Linked DNA regions of Homo sapiens. The protein of the gene in region 2 purifies or fractionates together with the protein of the main gene of each other region. This does not show direct contact. Each region holds a gene or a part of one and is shown on either strand. Other genes may lie near its edges.

Evidence for each region. The genes of interacting proteins can lie anywhere in the genome.
Region 1: the proteins of CD300LB (region 2) and RAD51B purify together in Homo sapiens (affinity purification with mass spectrometry; one large-scale study listed by BioGRID and IntAct). This does not show direct contact.

What each region holds. Positions count from the first base shown.
Region 1 is NC_000014.9:67,818,401-67,822,578, reverse strand, and holds the start of RAD51B (DNA repair protein RAD51 homolog 2), read right to left. Parts: upstream 2,801-4,178; 5' UTR 2,726-2,800; intron 1-2,725. UniProt on the Homo sapiens protein: Involved in the homologous recombination repair (HRR) pathway of double-stranded DNA breaks arising during DNA replication or induced by DNA-damaging agents. May promote the assembly of presynaptic RAD51 nucleoprotein filaments.
Region 2 is NC_000017.11:74,528,676-74,532,640, forward strand, and holds the start of CD300LB (CMRF35-like molecule 7 precursor), read right to left. Parts: upstream 2,801-3,965; 5' UTR 2,787-2,800; coding exon of another isoform or gene 2,676-2,786; coding exon 2,636-2,675; intron 1-2,635. UniProt on the Homo sapiens protein: Acts as an activating immune receptor through its interaction with ITAM-bearing adapter TYROBP, and also independently by recruitment of GRB2.

The DNA.
Region 1 (4,178 bases), on a different chromosome or scaffold from region 2:
GCTAATTTTTGTATTTTTTGTAGAGACAGGGTCGACACCATGCCTGCCCAATTTTTGTATTTTTTGTAGAGACAGGGTTTTGCCATGTTGCCCAAGCTGGTCTCGAACTCCTGGGCTCAAGTGATCCTCTCGCCTTGACCTCCTAAAGTGCTGGGATTACAGGCATGAGCGATCAGACCTGGCCCAAAATGTTCTTTATTACACTAGCTGCTTATATTCTCACATGCAGTTAAATTTCACTATTGTACCTTGCTAGGGGTAAATGAGGCTCATGAAAGATTTATCTTCACAGAGCTAAAAAAGAATTACTGTGAGTCTCTTAATGCATACAAAGGAGAAGCTGTATATCTCATTGAGATGGTAAAGAAGTATCCTCTGGAACGAACTGAAACAGGAACTCTTCATGGATCCAAGGAATAAAGCAATATAGTTATCAGAAAAGAAGTAACATTTTGGAATGAAAATATATGTATACTGAGAATGTATATATTTGTTTATTTCCAATACCATGGCCCAAATTTCTATTTAACACCTAAATTCTCTGAATCAGACTGAATCAATCTCTCTCTCTCACACACACACACACGCACACACAATATACATACATACACACCTCTCACAAACAAAAATACATCCTCCTCATTTCTCTCCATGGGAATTTGTTAGCAATGACTTGTTTCCCCCAGTAGAAAACCAAGTGATACCTGCTATAATATTGCCTAGTGTCTTTTCAGATCAGGTAGTTTCAAGTAATGACACCATTTAGACTGATAAATTCAATTTAAAAAAAAAAAGAAGGAGAAAGAAAAGAACCATAGGCCACACAAGGTAGCTCACGCCTACAATCCCAGCACTTTGGGAGGCTAAGGCAGGCAAATTGCTTGAGCCCAGGAGTTTGAGACCAGCCTGGGCAACATAGAGAGAACCTGTCTCCACAAAAAAATACAAAAATTAGCTGGGCATTGTGCCGCACACCTGTAGTAGTCCTAGCTACCCAGGAGGCTGAGATGAGAGGATCACCTGAGCCCAGGAGGTCGAGCCTGCAGTGAGCTGTGGTCATGCCACTGCACTCTAGCCTGGGGAACAGACTGAGACCCTATCAAAAACAAAAAACAAACAAACAAAAAACTATAAATTCTAAACTACAAGGACTTTAACAACAACCAATTCTGCCATTTCTGCCTTAATAGGGCCACTCCCATCACTTGCCTGGACTATTGCATATTGTTTCTGGCCACTCCATTCATTTGTTCCTTAATTTACTCCTTCCACAGGCATTTAAATACACACCCTGCTGAGGTCTGGGGTACAAGAATCATTTAAGCATATTCCCTCCCCTTTGAATACTCATAGTTGAGATGAAAAGAGAGGTACACACAAATAACTACAGCCATGCAGTAAGCATTACAATTGCTATTTAAAAGTGCTATGGAAGCAGACAGGAAGAAGCCCCAAATTCGCCTGCAAAAGTCAGATCAGTGTCACAATCCTGCCTTGAGTAGCTTCCTAAAAAGTCACGATTATCCTTTAACACTTCCCATGGGACTGGTAGACCACAGGATAAATTCCAAACTTCTTAGGGTCGCAGAGAAAAACATCAAAAATTGGTCCCTCACTTCCTTCTCACTCATACATCACATTGCAACGTTCAGTTCCTATCCTTCCTGGCAGTTACTTCACCTCTCAGTGTCTTAATTTCCTTAAAACCCTTGTTTTACAGTCATATGAATTTACTACTTCATATGACTGTAGTGGAGGTTAAAGGACTCGGGGAGTGCGTGGCACATAGTACTTAAGGTCAGCAATCATCATTTAATGACTCTCACATGATCTGCCCTCCAGCCACATGGTATGTGTATTGGTAGGTCACGCATCCTGTCTCCCTGACTTCCCTCCACAAAACCTTCCCCAGAGTCAAGTCTTTTCCTCTCCAATGTTCTCATCAACTTCGCACATATCTATTCGATAATCTTATCAAAATACTATTATGGCTTGCAAGTTTGTTTGCCCCCACCGGAGCACGTAAATTCCTGCGGTGTATGTGTGCGCGAAAGCACGTATGTGTATTGCACATGAGGGGAGACGGTCAACCCTGGAGAATGAACCCTGTCCTCCTTACCACCAAGAAAAGAAAATTCTTCATGTTAGATGTTCAACAACTGTTTAGGAACAATATTAGCTAATATTTATTGAGCCCTTATTACGTGCCACACTGTTCCAAAGGCTTCGGATATTTTACCTCACTTTACAGATAAGGATACTGAGGTAACTAGTTGAGAAACTTGGGCAAAGTTAAACAGCTGACAATTGGTGTGAAGCTCGCATTCGAATCCAGGGACCGGACTCCAGATTCCACGCTCTCCAACACCACCTGAAGTGGGAGAGTCCCTCAACTTCCCCTAATGACAGGCTGCCCGAAGCGGGAAGGGGCTGGGGAGGAAGATGGGCAGCAACAGGCGGAAACATCACCCAGAATCCCCTAAAAAGAGCTTTTTCCAACAATGAGCAGCTTCCAAGCATTCCCCACCAAAAGAAGGCCCGAAGCTCCCCCAATTCACAGCGGGGTTCTTAGTGACGATCCCGAGTCTTAAGGGGGCGTGACCAGCACCCAAGAGAAAATCTCCGCTCCCCCAATATCGAAACCCACGAGCCTAGGGAAGGAGCAGGAAATAATGAGCGAACCCCACTTCCCCACAACGGCACCCCACATGAAACTTTCCAGTACCGGGTCTGCAGCATCCAACTTTCAAGTTTCCCCACCCTTTACACAGTTTCCCCGCGGAAAACGCCGCAAAGCAACAACCGAAGCACTGATTGAGTCGTCATTCTGGCTACTGTATCCAATCAGAGGCCGGCAGAGGCCCAGGTTGGCTCCGCGGCTTGCTGGGAATTGTAGTTAATACTATGATCAGCCTAACAGATCGAATCTGAAGCAGTTTCTCAATATAGTGATTATCAAAATCTGTTGCAGGACCATCACCAAAGAGAATGTGAAACAAGGGAACACCCTGTTTGGAAATTTTTCTTTTTTCTTTCTTTTTTTTTTTTTTTGAGACGGGGTCTCGCTCTGTCGCCCAGGCTGGAGTGCAGTGGCGCGATCTCGGCTCACTGCAAGCTCCGCCTCCTGGGTTCACGCCATTCTCCTGCCTCAACCTCCCTAGTAGCTGGGACTACAGGCTCCCACCACCACGCCCGGCTAATTTTTTTGTATTTTTAGTAGAGACGGGGTTTCACCGTGTTAGCCAGGATGGTCTCGATTTCCTGACCTCGTGATCCGCCCGCTTCGGCCTCCCAAAGCGCTGGGATTACAGGCGTGATCCACCGCTCTCGGCCCTGGAAATCTTTTTTTTCGTGTATCATCACTTTTCACAATGGCTTAAAGGGGCCAGACGCAGTGGCTCACGCCCGTAATTTCAGCACTTTGGGAGACCGAGGCGGGAGGATCACTTGAGCCTGGGAGTTCGAGACTAGCCTTGGCAACATAGTGAGACACCCTCCCCCACCCCTCCGCCTCTACAAAAAAATACAAAAAATAGGCTGGGCGCGGTGGCTCATGCCTGTAATCCCAGCACTTTTGAAACTGCCCGATGGGTTCACCTTACCAGCTGCCTAGACAGAACCGATTTATCAGGACAGGGGAATTGCAATGCAGAAAGAGTAATTCACGCAGAGCCAGCTGTGCGGAAGACTGAAGTTTTATTGTTACTTAAATCAGTTGTCCCGAGCATTTGCGGATCGGAGTTTTTACCAATAATTTGGCTGGTAGGGGCTTAGGAAGTGGGGAGTGCTGATTGGTCAGGTTGGAGATGGAATCATAAGGGGTCGAAGTGAGGTTTTCTTAATGTCTTCTGTTCCTGGGTGTGATGGCAAAACTGGTTGCGCCAAATTACTGGTCTGAGTGGTGTCAGCTGATCCATGGAGTGCAGGGTCTACAAAATATCTCAAGCACTGATCTTAGGGCTTGCAATAGTGATGTCACCCCCGGGAGCAATTTGGGGAGGTTCAGACTCTTGGAGCCAGAGGCTGCATGACCTCTAAACTGTAATTTCTAAACTTGTAGCTAATTTGTTAGTCCTGCAAAGGCAGACTGGTCCCCAGGCAAGAAGTGGGTCTTTTCGGAAAGGGCTGTTATCAATTTTGTTTCAGAGTCAAACCATGAACTGAATTCCTCCCCAAAG
Region 2 (3,965 bases):
AAGGACAGCATGACATCAGAGAGAGTGTGAGCTTTGATGCAGAAAGACTTGACACTGAACTAGTTGGGAAACCCTGGCAGAGTTGCTTAACCTCTGCAAGTATCGCTTCCTTATTCATAAGACAGTCATGCTACGCTCTACTTTGAAGGTGGTAATAGGACTTGGATGTGTGTAGGCTGGGCAAGGTGGCTCATGCCTGTAATTCCAAAGCTGTGGGAGGCTGAGGCAGGAGGATCGCTTGAGCCCAGGAGTTCCAGACTAACCTGGGCAACATGGTGAAACCCTGTGTCTGCAAATGCAAAAGATTAGCCAGGAGTGGTGGTGCATGCCTGTGGTCCCCACTGCTTGGGGGGCTGAGGTGGGAGGATCGCCTGAGCCTGAGAGTTCAAGGCTGCAGTGAGTTATAATCGCCCACCACTGCACTTCAGCCTGGGTGACAGAGTGAGACACTGTCTTCAAAAAATTATTTATTTTTAAATTTAAAAGAAGACTTGGATGTATGTCCAACGCCAGACATTTGGGGTTTGCTCTGTCAGTGACAGCTCATCAACAGGTCAGAACTTCATCTGTGCCTGGATCATGGCAGTGGCATCTGGAGAGGTCTTCCCAGCCCCAGCAGCATCCTCCCCAACTCTCCTCTCCTGAGGATTATGGCCTTCATAATCTTGTCTTTTGTGTTTCCAACCTCATATCCAACTCGCCACCCCCAAGATGTCCTGCACACTGACAGCTCCCTCAGCTTTCCTCTCCATACTGCTGCCTGAGTTGGGTACTGAGACTGTCTCCTCCTCCTCATCAGCTGCACTTGCCCTGAGCATCTAAAAGTCTTTTCGGGGCCGGGCACGGTGGCTCATGCCTGTATTCCCGCACTTTGGGAGGCCAAGGTGGGTGGATCACCTGAGGTCAGGAGTTCAAGACCAACCTCACCAACATGGTGAAATCCTGTCTCTACTAAAATTACAAAAATTAGCCAGGCATGGTGGCAGGCACCTTAATCCCAGCTTCTTGGGAGACTGAGGCAGAAGAATCACTCGAACCTGGGAGGCGGAGGTTGCAGTGAGCCAAGGTTGCACCACTGCACTCCAACCTGGGTGACAGAGTGAAACTCCGTCTCAAAAACAAAAAACAAAAACAAAAACAAAATACCCAAAAACATAAATTGGATTTGTCAGCAATCACTAACAGCAGAAAAGAGATGCTGCTGCATTGAACAAAGTGTCATCAATCCCAGCTTCAGTCATTCAAACTGTAAATGGCTCACGATGTAATTAGTCCCGTTTAAAAAAATATTTGGGGGTTTCTCTAACCACAGAATATGATGGCTGGAACTATTAATCAGGCTTCTATATGTTGTCAAGAGTTGGTATGAGGAACGATAGAGATGGAAATGACAGGGCAGCCGTCAGCTTGGAGCAGAGCCCCGTTGAACGGGCTGAAGGGTGGAAGTCCAGCCAGGACTGGAGTCGGGTCTCAGAACTCCCCAGCCATGCTCTTTCCTGTTGTCCCTCCGTGGACTGCTCTATCTGTGCCAGATGGTCAGTCCCTAGGCACCAGCAGAAAACTGTGTGGCCCACACACATTGCACACCCTGCGTAAAATTCTAGATTGTCCCCTAATGCCCTCTAGGTGTCCACCAAGGTTTGCCATGGAGAAGATCATCTAGCCCTTCCCACTTTCCACCTGGGTTCTTGAGAAGTTTTTTCTTTGAAAGTCTCAGCTCCTGAGCCTGGCGTGGATGGCCTTCATAATCTTGTCTTTTGTGTTTCCAACCTCATATCCAACTCGCCACCTCCAAGACATCCTGCACACTGACAGCTCCCTCTGCATGAATCCACCATTCTTTCTAAGCCTCCATCTCTCTGCCCAGGTCCCCCAACACACACACACACACACACACACACACACACACACACACACCCAACTCTCTAGAGTGTTCTCCTCTCAGCTCTGCTCCAGAGACTGACCTTCCTTCTACAAGGCACATCAAGTGCACAGCTTCGTGAGTCTTTCTCTAGTCACCAGAGAGAACTGCTTCATCCTCCGCACACGCCTCCACCAATGCCTTATTGTGTCCTGCAATTGCTCATTGTTTATGTGTATGTCTCACCCACTAAGCCATCTGGAGTCTTTTTACTTTATTTTTTTTTTGAGACAAGGTCCCACTGTATCACCCAGGCTGGAGTGCTGTGGTGCGATCATAACTCTGCAGAATTGAATACCTGAGCTCAAAGGATCCTCCAGCTTCAGCCTCCCAAGTAGCTGGGACTACAGGCACGGTCACCACGCCCAGCTAATTTTTGTTCATTTTATATAGAGACGAGGTCTCACCATGTTGCCCAAACTGGTCTTAAACGCCTGGACTCAAGCAATCCTCCCACCTTGGCCTCCCAAAGTGTTAGGATTATAGGTGTGAGCCATGGCCTCAAGCCTGGAGTCTTCTTTAATGGCCAGTTCTCCTCCTCTTTTTTCTTGATGTCCTCAGGCCCCGAAGCACACGATGTCAGTCCCCAGTGCACCTTTGTCGAATGACTTCACAAAGCCACCTCTCATTTCCCTGGATGTGGAAGGACAAATGCCCTCTGCCTCCTGCCCTGCCCCTGTCATACCAAGCGCCCAAGGCCCCAGCCCCACTCACCTGAGAGGCTGAGAAGGAGCAGAGCAGGGGGCAGCCACATGGCTCTGCCTTCCCGGCTCCTCGTCCGCCTGATCTGCAACCAGTGGCAAATGCAGATCCCAGATGCACTCTGGAAGTTCTGCCTGAGCTCTGGCTTGCACCTTCTGCACATCTAGACCGCCTTTGACTTTCTTACTCATTCACTTCCTTTTATAGAGTGGGTAGTTCCTGCTTTTAATTATTAAACGAAAGAGGTGTCATTTTTTGGCAGGGCTGCGCCACAGGGCTTAAGCATCGTCACTATGTAAAAAAGAGGAGGGAGGGGACTGTGCAGGGTCTTTAGGGTAGGGGGAGATACGTCTGCAGAAGGGGTGGGGTGGGGGGCGTCTGGCCTAGCAGGCCTTGGGTCCAAGGGGTATAACACTCTGGGAGTCAATTTCAGAGCTGTTCTATACCACAGTGAACACCCAACTCAGATGTCGGATGGGTCATGCTGGGCACACCTGAACATGCATTTGTTCAGGTGTTATAGCCAAGTGCATAAACATGCAGACTGTTGGGTCAGACAGACCTGGCTCTAACCCCACGAGCACCACCTACAAGCTGCGTGACTGTGGACAATGCAATCAACATCTCTGTGCCTCAGTTATTGTATCTATTAACTGGGCTCATAATGTTTGTTGTTGTTATAGGAGTTATTAAGAAATTATTTTAGGTAGATAGGAAAAGGGGTGCTTGGGAAGATTTTTTTTTCTTTTAAAGCAGCTCCATAAATGTTTCTTGTCTAGAAGAAAAGCCCTGGCTCTTAGAGCTGGGCAGGCAAGCTTTGATATGCAAATACAGGCCATTAGAAACTGCGTCCACCCAAACATGGAGACTCCCGCCTCTTCTTCTTTTCCCCACGTTCCTGGCAACATGGCCGCCCCTACATACACCCATGTGTGTAGAACATCATGGCGCCTGTATTTGCATATTAAAAGGCTAGGGTAGGAAGGCTAGTTTTTTCGTGGGCTACTTGAATGACATACCTGGTCAAACCAATCCCCTGGGCCCTATGCAAATCAGGTACCGCCTCCTCCAGCCTCCTCATATAACTGGCTGTTTTCCACCGTACTCGAGGTTCCCTCTTTCAGCTTGGAGCCCGCCTCCCTCAGTCTCAGAACAGGGGGAGCCTCTTCCTTCCTTCTTTCTTGTCTATTAAATTCTCCACTCCTTAAAACCACTCCACGTGTGCCCATGTTGTTTTATTCAAACCAGTGGGAGACCAAGGACCCTAGTGTTCCTCCAGTCATCAGAGCCATACCATTTTGTTGCATTGGCCGGGAATCCAAGGTACGACACTCATCGGAGT